Regions from separate parts of the Homo sapiens genome. Here region 2 is linked to region 1. Evidence: fine-mapped expression QTL. Tissue or cell type: whole blood. Region 1 holds a variant in brackets; the other region holds the start of a gene. All regions are shown on one strand. Distances are from middle to middle. Region 1 overlaps LOC124901260 (a long non-coding RNA gene). Region 2 holds the start of EDN1 (endothelin 1).

Region 1 (8,334 bases):
GATTGCATCTGAGCTGCATGTGGTCTTGTTATCTCTTGGGCCCTAAGAGGCGGGCTGTGGAAGGAAGCCTCTCAGATGCTGCCCCTTGCCCACCAGGTGGCTTGAGTCAGGCAAACCACTCAGAAACACTTCCCTGCACCTTCCATTTAAATCGTGTGCTACAATCTAAAGGGCAGAGGAGGACATGATGGAAATTATTAAAGGAAGAGGCTGAGAGCATTTTCAAGAGCCATATGAGTAGGAAGAGGGAGGAAAGCAGCTGTTCTTCTCTACACACCATAGAGGTATATGCAATTTCTTTAAGGATCTTCTCTGCCTTTGTGGGGTAAAATATGGGTCATGTAAATACAACATTGTTATGGCAATTACTCACTGACGACACACAGAGGAGATTCTGTTACCTATAAACAGCTAGTAAATATGGGCATGACATTTTAAACAGTTTTCTGCTTTAACAAGACAAGAGGATGATACTTCCCATCTCTTTAGCTGATTGTCCCTCCCCACCCACAGCCTCTTTCCCTTCAACACTTTCTGCCTAAATCTCCAAATAATCACCCCACTCACTCACACCAGGCCAGTGGCTGGCAGGCTCCTTGGCCAAGTTTACTATCTGGTTCCAAAGGGGAAGGAAAAATGCATTTGTTCTTTCAGAATGAGAGCTCCCAGAACATCAGGGGTGGAGGGCTTGGTCATCTGAGGGTGTTTCTATAATCTGGAATCCTAAATTTAGCAAGGGACATAGCCCAGGCTAAGAGAATGTCTTCCTTCCTATGAACTTCCACCCATCAGCAGAAGTGGAAGCTGGAAAAGCTCACAGAGGTCACTCTTTCCCCCCAGGTTTTCAGTTACTTGGAACACTCCACTTTAGGGATTTCCAAAGTCACTGGGCTCATTGGAATATTCTCTTTTTATTGACATGAAACGTGTTTGCTGAGTCTGGCTGGCCAAGTGATTCCACAGGGTGAAAAAGAAAAGGCATTGAAATATTCATCAGGAGAGCTACCCAGTTCCACCGCCAGTTTCCTAGGCAATGGTGGGTGAATCTAGTCATTTTTTTCTCAGTTTCCTCATCTCTAAAACAGAGATGATATCAAGTCCTATGTACCCATATCACAGAGACATGTTAAAATAAAATAATACGTGATAAATGTTTAGGAAAAAAGCTGCTGAAAATGCATTCAAAGTGGAGTTTGTAGCCACTTATTATAATTATTGCCACTTCTTACATTCTGAAATATTTTCAGGGTAGAATTTTTTAAAAGACATTTTGTGACTTCTTTACACTAATAATTATGGGTGATATTGATAAGACAGTTCTCGTACATTGATCTTAAACTCAGTTATCACAATCTTTTGTAACATTTTGCTCTTGGCTTATTTGTTCCTGATAGGGTAGAAGTTGCAGGAAAAGTTGATTAATTAAAAGCCATATTGTTGTAAATTTCATCTGTGTGGGGTCAATGAGTCTTGTAATTTAATGTTAGAATACCCTAGAGCAGCGGCTCTCAAAGTGTGGTCTGTGGACCCCTGGGCTTCTCTAAGATCCTTTTGCAGGAGCATAAGATCAAAACTATTTTTTAAATAATATTAAGACGTTATTTGCCTTCTTTACCATGTTGACATTTGTAGTAATTGTGAGCATGAAGCACTTACAGTATACTCTAATACTTACACACTTGCTATGAGTTGTAGGCTGAAATAGCCTATTTTTGCATGGAAGCATTTTTTCCCTAAAAGACAACTGACTGCAAACTATTGTTATTCAGCCTTGGCTATTTGACAAACTTTTTCTTGAGACTAAATAGAGAGCCTGTCACTTCAAGGAAAATAACAAACATTATTCGTTGCTGAAAATAACATTTGAACCTTCAAGCAAAACTTTGAATTTTGGTAAACTTGTACCTGCTTGTGTAAACCAGACAGCTTCCCAATGCCTCAAAGACTTTTCTAATGAGATCAGTGATAGTAACAAATGTGATTTTTCAAAATATTGTATAGCCAACATTTGAAAGGTCAAATATTCACTCAATGAATTAATATTTTCCAAATGATTGATGCATTACCTGGCAAAATCATGCATGGGCAAAAGATCCATAGGAAAATATAATTAATTTTATTAAAATTAGTTAATTTATTTAATTTGTATTGAGTTTATTATTGCTTTAAACAAATAAATATTTTAAATGTTTTTAAAATATTTCTTTGATATAGTAAATATATTCTTTGATATAGTAAATGTAACCCACACAAATGAAAGCTTCCTGGGATCCTCAATACTTTTTAGAGGATAAATGAATTCTGAGAACAAAATCTATCAGAATGGCTGTGCTACAAGTCTTAACTTATAGTCTGCAGTGAGATAACATCTCTAATATAAAAAAAGAGAAAGTTTCCATCACGAGTAACTAAATACTTTCTCAATTGACAAATAAAAAAAGAATATTTGTATAAATTAGGTTATATCCAACATAAGCTTTTCTAAAGTAATTTTATTTATTTTCAAATCAGAATGTTATATGTTAGTGAATTAAATTCGAATCACTATGGTACAGTTTACTCATCCACATGACAAATACATTAATTTCTTGCTAACTATAGGCTTTTGGGGATATAACTATAGATGAAATGTAATCTGCCTTCAAGTAGCTCATAGTTTATAAAACCATCAGAAAAGGAAATTCTTCTCACATTCATTTTATGTATGTATGTATTAATTCAGCATTCATGTATTTGTTTTGTCCCCTCTGAGCCAGGCACCAGTATAGACATTGGGTTGAAAGACACAGGACTTGTTAACCATGCTTGGAACTCACAGTCCTGAGTACAGATAGGAATACAGTTGACCCTTGAATAACATGGGTTGAACTGTGCAGATCCACTTGCACAAGGATTTTCATTAATAATAGTTACCCCCAGTGTGCCTGCCTCTCCTGCCTCCCTCCCACCTCCTCCACCTCTTCCACCTCTGCCGCCCCTGAGACATCAAGACCAGCCCCTCCTCCTCCTCCTCTCCTCCTCCTCCTCCTCCTCTCCTCCTCCTCCTCCTCTTTACTCAATGTGAGGACATCACGGATGAAGCCCTTTAAGATGATCCACTTCCACTTACTGAATAGCAAATATATTTTCTCTTCTTTATGATTTTTTAAATAACATTTTCTTTTCTTAACTTACTTTATCATAAGAATACAGTATATAATACATATAACATACAAAATGGGTGTTAATTGGCTGTTTATGTTATCACTAAGGTTTCTGGTCAACAGCGGGTTATTACTAGTTAAGTTTTTGGGGAATCAAAAGTTATCTGTGGATTTTTGACTGCAAGGAGAGTTGGTGCCCCCATCCCTGGAGCTGCCTAAGAGTCAACTGTAATTATACAAATGAATACTCTAGCATAATTCTAAGTGCTCAGGAGGGTAGGTACAAAACTCCTTGAGTGATATCACAGAGACCTGAACCCAGCCTGGAGAACAGAAACAGCCTTCATGAGAATCATAATGGTTAA[T/C]AGAGAGCATTCCAACTGGAAGAAATATTATATACAGGCCATGAGGAGGGCTGGAGAAACAGAAAGGTCAGTGTAGTCAAAGCATGTTCAGCCAAGGAGGAGCCAGAGGGACCTGGCAAGGTGAGCAGCGATCCAAAGCCACCTACCCAGGGAGCAGCAAGGCTGAGATCCAAACAAGGATCTACCTCATCCCAGTGTGTAACTAGCACCTCACTATCTCCCCTCAAAAAATAAATTACGCCACATACCATGGGATATACTTTATAAACACATTTGCATGTGCCACTCACAGCAACCTTATAAGGTAGGTCCATATAGAGACCTATTTTATAGAGGAAATGACTGAGGCACAGAGAGGTAAAATAACTTTCCCAGGGCTACACAGTCACAAAGTAGCAGAGGCAGAATTGGAGCTCAAGCAGTTGGCTTGAGAGGTCACACTCTTCAGAGGTCACTACTCACTCCACCACCTTCTAGTCCACACAATTACTGGGTGGTAGACCTGGTCCTTGCAATCAGGCGAGTCAAATCTCTCTACCACTTTTCAGCATGACCATTCTCATTCCCTGCGTTAGAAATTAGCCTAGAGAGAACTGGTTGTAAAATCACACTGACTGTTGGGCGACACCCTCAAATCCCTAGAGACTGCACACCTCCAGAAAGCCTTTGGTATCGATGGTCAAGGAATTCCCAGGCTGCTTCCTGGGTCTCACCTGAAGTGAAACAGCTTTGCAGCAAAGAGGAATATGCTGTTGAGGAAATTCTTTCAAAGCTGAATCTCTTCCTTCCTCATTCCAGATAAATTGCATTAATGCATAGCCTATTACCTAACGGGGTTATGGTTTAACTTCCTTCCCCCAAGCCTTTTATGGGAATGCAGTAAAGATGGGTGCAGCCTGCACAGCATGGGCTTGACTCTTTCAAAAGAAATTCCCACCATCACACCCTTGTTCTCCTTGGTTTATTGAGTTTAAATTTGTAGGAGGCAAGTATGTTGATGCAATTTGCAAAAGTTACTGAAGATAAACCACCTACTAGAGAATGCAAGAGACTGGAAACAATGATTGAGTCTCCAAAAAAAGTGTTACTCATAGGATCATCTTCTATGAACATGAGTAAGAGAAGAAAACCATAAGCTGGTTTCAATTCTAAATACATTTAATTTCCAAAAGCAAAGGTGAGCAATTATGTATTCCACTTACCATAGAGCAATGGGCCACCTCATCAGACAAAAACACAGACCCGTACTTTTTTTGCAAATAACTTTTATGAAGCTAGTGCTGGGCCTATAAAAACCCAGTTGTACTAATACCTCCCTCTTTTCCTCTCCTTGAGCCATCTCTCCCACCAAGATCTCCAAAGATGCCTGCTTATAAAAGTGTGTCCTTCCCAGCACTTTGGGAGGCTGAGGCGGGCAGATCACCTGAGGTCAGGAGTTCAAGACCAGCCTGGCCAACATGGAGAAACCAAAACCCGGTCTCTACTAAAAATACAAAAATTAGCCGGGTGTGGGGTGCACACCTGTAATAACAGCTACTCAGGAGGCTGAGGCAGGAGAATCGCTTGAACCCAGGAGGCAGAGGTTGCGGTGAGCCAAGATCACACCACTGTACTCCAGCCTGAGTGACAGAGTGAGACTCCATCTCAATAAAAAAAAAAAAAAGAAAGAAAGAAAGAAAAGAAAAAAAAGTGCATCCTAAGGTTCCCACAGTGTAAATGTCTTCCAAGAGCAGTAAGGATTGGGTTCAGCTGAGAGTGACTGAAAATTCAAAATCTAAGTGGCTTTAAGGGAATAAAAATTTGCACACTCATCTGAATGTAAATGATCCAGGGCTGGCATAATGGCTCCACCATGCTTAGAAGGTCCAGTGCTTTCTACCTTGATGTTCCATCTCCCTCAGCACACAGCAGGATCAACACCAGCCATCACATCTGTGTTCCAGGCAGCAGGATGCAAAAAAGAGACAAGATAAAGCCACATGATCTCCCATTAAAGACAATTCCTGGGAGTTGTACACCACTGCTCTTTATAGTCCTTGGTTCTTTCAGGTTCACAGAACCTAAGGGATAATAGATATTGAAAGACAGCTATGTCTCCCCTTTGGCCACCCATGTATCTCAGTGTACCCTTATTTCCATGTTTGAAATGTACTCAACCCCTGTACTCCCAGATAAAGAATCCCAGAGTTCCACCAAATTCATGCATCTGGTTCTAAGTCCAGGATTTTCAGGTACTATTCCATGCTCTTTATCAGGTCTGAGTGTAACTACTCATTTTCAGGGGCCCTACAAAATAGAAATGTAAGTTACCTAATACAACACACCTACAAGTCCAATAAGAACAGGACAAACTTTATATAAACAAACATTTCTCCCACTCAGAAAAATTAAAAACTGAGAATCACATAATAGTTCCTTATCTCTAAATATTATCAGATCCCACTGGGCAGAAAGAGAAAACAAAATCATGAGAGTCAGCTGGACTCTCACCTGCTCACTGGGCAAAACTTCTTCATTCACTGCCGCCTGTGGGTTTTCTCTCCCTTTAGGAAATGTTTCCCAGCTCATAATACTCCCAAGTGCGCGCCTTTCTTAAAGCCTTCACAGCTTTCACAGCCTTCCTGCTGGCTGTCTGGGAAAGGTGGTCACCTTAGGTATTGAATGGTCAAAGGCTTTTGCAGTCTAGACTGCTGGTCTCTTTGTCAATACAAAATTTCATGGCATCTGGCCTACCTGAATTCTACCAATTCTGCCTATAAGCAATCAGAATGATGATGTCTGAACATGGATTTTATCCATAATACCTTTGCTTTTATTTTACTTTATAACCTCTGTTCCACCAAATCCTCTCTCTCACTCAACCTACACTCCTTTTATCATGCTATTCTATTTTCTTTCTTTTTCCTTTTCTGTTTTTGTTTTTTGTTTTCTGTTTTTGAGACACCCAGGCTGAAGTGCCATGTTGCAATCTCAGATCACTACAACCTCTGCCTTCTGGGCTCAAGTGATTCTCCTGCCTTAGCCTCCTGAATAGCTGGGACCACAGGCACACACCACCATGCCCAGCTAATTTTTGTATTTTTTGTAGAGACCAGGTCTCCCTATGTTGCCCAAGCTGATCTCAAACTCCTGGGCTCAAGCAATTCTCCTGCCTCAGCCTCCCAAAGTGCTGGGATTAGAGGTGCGAGTCACTGCACCAGGCCTGTTCCCTCTATTTTCAACAGAGGATTTTTACTTTATGGTCCAAAATGGTTCTTCTAGCTTAAGCCATCATATTTAAGTTATTGCAGGTAGGGATGAGAAAAGAGGCAGGAGAAGGGCCTACCCCTACCCCTAAAAGATAGATCCTGGAGCCTTACACATTTCTTTTGTTTATATCCATTGACCAAAGTGTAGTCACTTGGCCGTATCTGCTGGAAGGCGGTCAAGAAAATGTAATTTCTTTTAGGTGGCCATGACCTAGCTAGCATTTTGAGGCTTTATTATAGAGTCAGAAAAAGGAACAAGAACATCCAAGTATAATTAGCAATCCTATTATGTTAACATGTGTATTTTTAAATGGGTTTATGGAGACAGACAATTACTATGGAGAGTGTAATATACATCACAGCCAGAAAGGAACACGAATGATTGAGGCAACATTCTCCAAGCAATGCTGCTTATCTCATTTGCCCTGTGACAACTCTGGGCCCAGAATTGTCACAGAACCCAGAACTGAGGTTCTTCAGTCAACTTGTAATGAGGCCCACTGTGTGCCAGGAACTGGGTATTCACAGGACTTGCTGAAAGTCTGCCTAATTTATACTGAAGAAGTTGCTATAAGTTGGAATTTTATTCCAATAACTAAAAGATCCATTGAGAAGAGCTAAACTCACCCAACTGATATAACACATGCAGTTTTTCAAACAATTGGCGTCAGTGCTGTATATATTTATACACCAATCCAGAAATAATCTACCGTATGGTTCTCATGTAATTTCTAATTCATCTTCACTGGGAAATTGGGATGCCTTTGGTCAAGAGGAGCTAAAGGAAATGCTTGGTTGCACAGCCTGCCTGGGTCCTATTCTTTCACTTTCCTCTTTGATTTTGATTTTGTGGCTACAATGGTGGTTTTCTTGCATCAGCTTACAAATTGACTGCAAGGGAAGAATTCTCCATCTCTCTTCCTACGATAACTAGATGTCCATGCTTCAACCACAGCTGCATCAGCCGTGGTTCTAAGCGAGGACAGCTGGCAGTCTAAGGGTTGGATTGGTTAACCTTGGAAAGTGCTTCCCCTCCGCCTCCATACATTTCACAGCTGGTTCTCTGACAAATGCGCTCTGACCAACCTCCTCATTGCATAGAGGTCACTGAGTCTGTGGCTCTTCCTGTCCTATGGTGCCTAATATCCCCCTCTTCTGCAGCCACTTGAGTGGGAGTAGAGTGGGCAGGGGAGACCTTCACTTTCCCCATGACGCAGGACTTGAGAAATGACTCCACTGGGACAGGGACTGGCCTTATCATGGCACAAATGTGCTATCACACCCCAGAGGAACGCCTACATCCCCTCAAGCCCAAACTCCCACGAAAACCAAATCACAAAGAAATAGAAGCACGGACTTAAATTGGTTTTCTGCTGCATTTTGGGTTTCCCTTTTTTTTTTTTTTTTTTTGAGATAGAGTCTTGCCCTGTCACCCAGGCTGGAGTGCAGTGGCGCCATCTCAACTCACTGCAACTTCTGCCTCCCGGGTTCAAGTGATTCTCTTGCCTCAGCCTCCCGAGTAGCTGGGATGACAGATGCCTGCCACAGGCCTGACAAATATTTTTTGTGTTTTTAGTA
Region 2 (8,334 bases), 48 kb before region 1:
TTGGCATCTATTTTCACGGTCTGTTGCCTTTGTGGGAAGTAAATTCTCCAAGGCTCTCTTGGACCTAGGGCTTCCAAGTCCATACGGAACAACGTGCCTATTATCCAAAGAGAGAAAGAAACTATATTAGTGTAATTAATAGTCTTTAAAATGACACATGGACACACCTATTCCACTGGGCACACAAGGAGCTCATCACATAGCACTTGGGAGCATCATTTCAGAGGGTAAAGTGTAACAACAGCCAGGAACACCTGTGCATCAATGGCCCTGACTGTATGTATCCAGGCAGGAGAAAACAAGTTTTTCTAATTCAGTGGAATTCCATTTCAACTCTTCACAAAGTTCAGTTTCTTCTTGACACAAGCAACATTGCTTTTTTGTCAAAAATTAGGACATCTCTGCTTGGCATCTGCTTTATATTTTCTTCCTTTTCTAATGGTCTATTTAGTTAACTATTTGTGGGTACACAGTGGGAAGAGGTTTCAATGCAAAACCATGACTCACAGGATTTTTAAAACTTATTTTCAACTCAAACCACGGAGGATACTGCTAAAAGTGCCACCGTCACCCCACCGACCCCAGTGGTTGGGGGAGGAGGAGGCACATGTTCACACATTTCTCCTGCCAGTCGGTGGTACCATATGGTTGTGGAAGGACTCATAGCCAGAGGGCTCTCCAATAATTTCCAATGTGTCCATTTTCATTCTCATCTAAGAAATAAAGTCCTCCCTTTGGAAGTATCACCTTAGTAATTATTAGGCTCCTTGTGGTTTTTGGTGTGGTTTGATATTGTTTGGATTTTGGTCCTCCTTTGTCATAACGGTACATTGTATGCATAGTAAATGTGTGCTTGTTTATGACTGCTTCCGACAGATGATGAACTAGTGTCCAGGGCAGAAGGAGGAAATCTGCTTTTCTTCTCTGTAGGTGAAAGAGAAGCCTATGGACAGTATTTCTATTTCAGTTCTGAAATGGGCATTTCTAAAGGGAAAATATAGCAGCAAAGGAAATCCGGGCTCCAGTTCTAGCTCTGCTACAAACTCACTCCTGCACAAATGGCTTCAACACTTTGAGCCTAGGTTTTTCTGTAAGTAAAATTAAGTGATTCTAACCCTCTATATCATCACTTCTGCCTCTCAGTCTCCACCCTCCCATGAGAAGCACAGGTTGCACTAACCCACATCTGACCTCGGCAATTATTCCCGAAACCCCATCAGATGCCACTGTGAGAGTGTCCCCCTGAGGCCCTCTCACTGAAAGTTCCTCATTTGAAACGTGCAGTGGCCTCCTGCTTGTCCCATCATGAGTAGCCTGAGCTACGGGGCCTCAGAAGACCCTCCCCTTGGTTGCTAAGAACGAAGCTGTCGTTATTTTCAGGAATAGAGGGAAACTGTCCCCACTGAGGCACTTGGATGGTGTTAGAAGGACTACCTTCAGAGTCCCTAGAAAAGAAACTCTAAAACTGGGCTCCAGTGGAGCCAGCGCTAATGAATGACTAGGGTTACAATGCCCTCTAGAGACTTACTCGGGAGTGTTGACCCAAATGATGTCCAGGTGGCAGAAGTAGACACACTCTTTATCCATCAGGGACGAGCAGGAGCAGCGCTTGGACCGGCGGAGCCGCCAGGGTGGACTGGGAGTGGGTTTCTCCCCGCCGTTCTCACCCACCGCGCTGAGCTCAGCGCCTAAGACTGCTGGGGAGAGAAAGAGCAGGTCAGTGGGGGATGTCTCCTCAAACGCCGAGAGACATGCTGGATCACAGTAGAGTCAGAGCTAGCAGAGCAGATAAAAGCAGATGAAGCACACAGCCTGCCATCAGCAAGAAACACAGAAAAAAGGGCTCTTTATTTTTTTCCCTCCTTAACATGAGTTCACCTTTTGCCTCCCCCTCATGCCCTTGGCTTATCCACCTTCAGGGAGATTACACAAATGCAGAGGAGATAAACACCTGAAAAGGGACTTCCCCCACCCCTCTTGAAGCAGGCTCAGGGAAATGCTGTGGAATGCTGCCTGTTGAAAATCCGGCTGGCTTCTACAAGGAACTTGGTAGGACAGCACTATCCACTGAAGCTTACTTAACATTGGCACATGACTAAAGACAAGAAATCACAGTTATTCCTAGCTTTGGGGCCACTTCCCCATTCAGGATGACCCTCTCTTTAGGGGGTACCCATCCACTTCACATGCTGTGTAGGGCACAGGGTACCCCAGATGATGTATATCTTTCAAAATTAGGTGGGGAAAATGATTGGAGAGAGAAATTAACTATTCAATATTCAATTCAGGAGGGTAACTCCATAGAAACCAGTGACCTAAGGTGGGGCTGAGAAGCAGGTCAGGGGACTGAAGGTAGGCTGGGGGGATTTTGAATTCCGAATCCCTGGGCATCAGGCTTGTGTGGGATCCACTGCCTCCCCCTTCTCCACTACTGCCTTGCCTCTTCCTCCTAACAATTTAGCCATGCAGCTTATCTGCCCAATTTTGTACATTTCAAATGATCAGACACATTCCAGGATTTTCATTCCCTTGACATCCTTTCTCTTTAGTCAGGGTCACGAAAAGACAAAAAAAGTGCACTGACCCTAAAAACGGGGGGGACCCGGGCAGATGCACACGCACTGCCTAAATCCTTCGGCAGCCAAGAATTATCCTAGCTCCCCTCCCAGCACAGGTGAATAAAGCTGAAAAGAGAGCTCACACTGTTTTGGGTGCCAAAAACCTGCCAAAAGAAACCTAAAGTCAATGATGACAAATTTTAAAGAAAACATCTGCTTCACCCAGAAACCGCCTGCGGGGGGTGGTGGCGGGGGGGGGGGGAGGCGGTAGTTAGTCAACAGACTTTTGCTCTGCAGGTGATTTTACTGAACATACATTGCTTGAACGACTGGATACAATTCCTTGGCTTCAAGCTGGAATGCTTAAATATTTTACACGTTAACACACTATTAAAATAGTGTTTAAATAAGATTTAAGTTCCTATATGGCCTGTGTACCTGTATAAACACATATATTACAAACATACATTTGACTAAATTGTATATGTCCATACTCTTCTCATTTTTTAAAAGCCAAGGAAACACATAATGGAATAATAATAATAAAACGATAAGTTATTTTAATGTCATGTTATAGTCAATTGCACCTAATTGTATTCAATAGAGGAATTTTACATTTTACACTAGAAGACTTAAAGTAGCTTTCAGCAATAATTCTCAGACACTTGCTCTCTAAGCTGCAGTCATAAAAAGAACGGGGAAAAATAGAAGCAAGAAAAGCATGAAGGTGGATAAGAACACACTAACTTGTAATTCCGAGACTTACAAGTCAACGAGCGTGCCTACCTGTTTCTGGAGCTCCTTGGCAAGCCACAAACAGCAGAGAGAAAATCATGAGCAAATAATCCATTCTGAAAAAAAGGGATCAAAAACCTCCCGTTCAAACTGAACCCAAAGGAAAACGAAGAAAAACAGCTTCAGGTCCCTCAAAGCGCTGCGGGTTCCTCAGATCTCAAAGCGATCCTTCAGCCCAAGTGCCCTTTTAACGGGGAGAAAAGGCAGCGCCTGCCAGGAGAGAAGGCAGCGAGCGGAGCGTCTGCAGGCGCACGCGGCGGTGGAGAGCTGGGACTGCAGGAGGCGCAGGACCCGTTCGCCTGGCGCAGATGCAGAGGCGCGTCTGACTTGGACAGCTCTCTGCCGGCTTTTTATATTGAACCCCTATTAGAGTGGGGGTAAACAGCTCCGACTTTATTCCAGCCCCAGACAATGTTATTGTGTTATTAGTCACCAACAGGCAACGTGCAGCCGGAGATAAGGCCAGGCCCGAAAGGAAATCACTGCTAACTTCAGAGGCAGACGCCCGCCGTCTGACAATTCGGGGGCAGGGCTAAGAAAAAGAAAATACCCATTAGAGACCTTTGCTAAACCTGCCCGTGCAGTGCTGGAGTCCGCTTCCCCTTTGCAAGCTGCCAGCCCCGGAGTTCAAGAATCAGAAGAGGGGACTCCAGAAAAAAAGTCATACCATTGGTATGAAAAGTATGAGCCACAGTTTAAATAGATTGTATTGTTGTGTGCGGGGAATTTTTTTTAATTGTTGCTCGCTTCATTTTCCTTTTATGTCTCTCCGATTCTAGTCTCAGTCAAACAAGGGAATGCTCTCCCTCGTCACTGCCCCACTACTGGGGGTCAGACTATTTTGGCAGATCAACGTACTTTTCTCTTCAAGCCCCTTCCTGCGGGTCTTTTTTGCTGAAGTTCTTTGCATCTATCGGAGAAAGATCCGTGAGGGATTGGCAAGAAAGGGAGCTTAAAAATAACATCAGAGCTCGTTTAGGCACATGCCCAGTCTTTTCCCTATCACTGATGAGAAGCCCCGATAAGTTCTTTTGTGTGTCCACACTTCCCCTGCGGAGGAGGCTGATAAACTGATTGAAAAGCAAAGGTGTTTTTCACACAGAACTTAAATCTTAAGATTGGTCGGTGCCACCAATCTTAAGACATGGCGGGAGAAGAACACCAGGGGGAGATGAAGAGCTACAGGGGCTGATGTTTTACTAGGACAAAAAGGAAAACCCTTCTAAATGGCAGAAAAAAACGCAACCTGGCTTGGGGGCCGAGGAGGGTCAAGGAATGTTGCCTAACATAGGAAGGAGGAATGCACCTCAGAATATTCTATTTATTCCCCGCACAAGCAGGGACATATTTTCTGGGACTCTTTTTTTTGGGGGGGTGTCTTCATTTAGGGCAAAAAGGTGTTCTTGTACAAGGTTAAGTGAATATGCAAGGAAGGTGGTGCTGAGAAGGAAATGCCATTCGAACAAGGAATCAGATAATACTTCACATTTAATAATGTGTTTACATTTTCAAAACAATTTCCTGTCTATCTAACCTTGAAATCCCCCCCTGAAGTACACACAGGGCAGTTACTGTACAGGTGACATCATGCCTTAATAAAGAAAGCAAAAGGTGCATGGAACACATTGGCTTTTTCCGCTAGTCCCATTTTTCAGGTTAGACAACTGAGCACCCAGAATTTTTGTTTGTTCTCCACCAAAGCGCTCACAGTGGCCCAGTAAGACCTATGGGATAAATTTAGAGTCTCTTCCCAGGGGATGCCATCAAATACACACTTTGTCCATCTCCTCTTTTTGTTTTACTCCAGTTTTTCTGGGGATGGAGGGTGGAATTCAAGCACGGATGAATTTCCAAGACTGGCACAACACACATGCTGGGAAACCTTTTTTCCCTCCTCCTTCTAAAATCAAAAGGACAGTTTTTATCCCAACAGCAAAGCCGTGGGTTTGGACAGACTCAGATCCCCAGACCTCCCTCGAAGTCACAGCTGGGGGAACAGGGACAGTGGCAGCGACAGGTCCATAATGACATGCATCCTCTAAAAGAGCCACTGAAGCAAGAGTTGGAGATGGGAGAGAGAGAGGCAAGAACTCTCCCTCCCACACCCACACCCACACCCACACCCAGAGATGCCTCCACCCTATCCCCAGGGCCTCTGCCGGGGCCCCTGGCCTCCGCTGTGCGCTTACCTCAGCCTAGCCCCGGGGCCCAGGGAGGCCACAGCTCCCGGAGGACAGGCGGCACTGAGCCGGAAGCCAGCGCTGCCGCCTGTGCCAGGCAAGGGTGCCCTGACCTCCCTCTCCAAAGCCGACCTTGGGAGAGGAGAGGAGAGCTGATGTCACATTCACAGGTTCCAAGCAGCGCCTCCCCCCCAACACTCCCGCGGAAGAAAGGTGGCCTGGGAAATATGTCTTGGCAGGGACTCCCCCTACTTTTTTTTTTTTAACCTTTTGGCAACTTTGACCAAACACTGACAACAGTCAGGACCAACATGTTCTCAAGGCCCCTACCCGGAAACCACCGCCCATGCCCTCCCCAATATTCTCAGGTCCAGCCTGGGTTCTACTTCAGCTGGAGTCCCTTCTCCCACCCCACTCCACGCCACCCCACCTTGCTGAGGCTGCCCCTGCAGGTTCCAGCAACGCCCAGCCTTCAGGTGGAGAAGTGGGGCAAAATGAAACTGCCCAAGCGCCTCCAACAGCACTCACCACGCCCCGTCTGTGTCATCCCGTGAATATGAATTGGAAACACAAAACGTGGCCAGCCATCCGCCCACACCTGGCCCTTCTCGAGCTCGGGGAAAGTAAATAGTAAGGAAGAATGCAGGATTTCAGACCTGGAAGGGCCCCACCGTGCCAAATATAATGGTGCCCCTGTCTCTTTGAATCCTGAATTTGCAAGACGTGTGCCTGCGCGCGCGCGCGCGCGCCTGTGTGTGTGTGTGTGTGTGTGTGTGTGTGTGTGTGTGTGTGAGAGAGAGAGAGAGAGAGAGAGAGGGAGAGAGAGAGAGATAGGAGAAGAGAAGAGAGAGAGAGAATTTCCGTGTCTTTTTCTTTGTGTGTCAGGGGCGAGGGGTGGCACCTGCCTTCTCTGTCCATCTCTCCATTTCTCCCTCTGGCAGCAGCTCCCTTTTCCTCCTGTAGGGGCAGAGGGAAGCCCCATTCAAGCCCACAGAAGGCAGCTAGGGCACTGCCAGGCAGCCTCCCAGCAAGACATTTTCCCAAGAATCAAGAAATGAGGGGAGAAGGAGAACCCCAACAAACCAGTTTTACAAGCTTGATGCCCCCACCCCTCCTCCACTTAAGGCACTGCTAGACAGAGATGCGGGGAGAAGAACTAGAGGTGAAAAGAGCTGGACAAAGGAGTGAATATGAAGGATAGCTTCATAGCCCCACCCCACCCCTCAGAGGACTGCAGGGGGAAAATGCTCCTTTTGGCCACAGTCACTCTCAGAAAGGGAAGGGAAGGAAGGGAGAGATGTAAAGAGGAGGATTTTTTTTTTTCCCCAATAGAAAGTTTGCTGTGGCTGTTCTTGCCTTTTTTTTTTTTCTCAATTTTAATTTTTTTGGGGACAGGGTCTCACTCTGTCTCCAAGGCTGGAGTGCAGTGGTGCAGTTATAGCTCACTGCAGCCTCAACCTCCTGGGCTCAAGTGACACTCCTACTTCAGCCTCCTGAGTAGCTGGGACAACAGGCTCAAGCCACCATGCCCAGCTAAGTTTTAAAATTTTTTCGTAGAGATAGGGATCTCACTATGTTGCCTAGGCTGGTCTTGAAATCCTGGCCTCAAGCAATCCTCTTACCTTGGCCTCCCACAGTGCTGTGATTACAGGCGTGAGCCACCACTCCTGGCCTATTCTTGCTTTTGAGGCTACACTTGAATGCTGGAAAGTATTTGATAAAACTATTTTTTATGTATTTCTTTCTGTATCTCTGTATTAATAGATATCTATAAATAAAACATGCTGAGCCCCCAATACAGATACTACACAGTAGCAAATTGTACTGTTTTTAGCATTCTCCAGCTTTCCTTTCTCAACTTTTGCGTAATAAAATTTGTAACTTTGCCAAGCCAATAAATTTGGTATGAGATGTTGCATTTAGCTCAGCAAAGCTAACAGTCGTTAAGTTGCTTGAAAATCACACAAAGAATGAGGAAGTATTTTATCATAGGCAAAGTGAAGCTATCCACACCACTAGGCCTGATTTAGTCTTGGGTTGGTAACTATTATACATTTCTACTCTATGTAGCACTTTTGTGAAAAAATGTGTAATATAGTTATTAGGCCTGTGACACATCACACATCTCCAGGAGCTATGAAGAAACACAGCTTCTCCCTATAGTCCAAAAAATAATGGTTGATTTAGCACAGGAAATATGATGGTCAATGTAAATTCATCCTGTACATTTTAAAAACATACAACATATGCATCTCTATTTCTTGGACACTCATCCATAGGATAATCATAGATAGCAAGTGTTTATTTAAAAGAGTATTTCCAATTCTCTAATCTAGCATTTCCCAAAGTTCAGTTATTCATTAAACTGCTTCACAATTTTTACCATATTTGGGTGCCACCTGTACATTTTTACTTAATATTTTCCTTTTAACTGACTTGTTTCTTTTACATGAATAATTTTAAGAAAATTTTATATCATTACTATCTTAAGCAATAATGTACATGAAATTATGGTTGGTATGCTTAAATAATCCATATGAAATCATGGTTGGTATGGTTAAAAAAACTACATGAAATCATAGTTTAATACATGCTAAACATTTAATCATTATACATTCATTAAGCTATTAAAAATAAAAATGTTTGGCTGGGCATGGTGGCTCACACTTGTAATCCCGAGGCCGAGGCAAGTGGATCACCTGAGGTCAGGAGTTCGAGACCACCCTGACCAACATGGAGAAATCCCATGTCTACTAAAAATTCAAAATTAGCCAGGCATGGTGGCGCATGCCTGTAATCCC

Evidence for each region. PIP is the estimated chance that this variant, and not a neighbour inherited with it, causes the effect.
Region 2: EDN1 starts here. The variant in region 1 is fine-mapped to the expression of EDN1 in whole blood (TOPMed, PIP above 0.99).

Annotation. Positions count from the first base shown.
Region 1 is chr6:12,238,004-12,246,337 of GRCh38, reverse strand. It overlaps LOC124901260 (a long non-coding RNA gene), which reads left to right. Exons shown (of 3, transcript XR_007059454.1): 3 at 4,844-4,891. It also overlaps a transcript of EDN1 not described here. Among named protein-coding and RNA genes, the nearest start is that of EDN1, 48 kb to the left of the region's middle. The variant T/C (reference allele first, on the strand shown) is at 3,509.
Region 2 is chr6:12,285,704-12,294,037 of GRCh38, reverse strand. It overlaps EDN1 (endothelin 1), which reads right to left and starts at 3,677. Exons shown (of 5, transcript NM_001955.5): 1 at 3,345-3,677; 2 at 1,529-1,697; 3 at 1-97. The coding sequence starts at 3,408. RefSeq lists enhancers at 3,745-3,814, 3,825-3,924, 5,068-5,568, 5,569-6,069.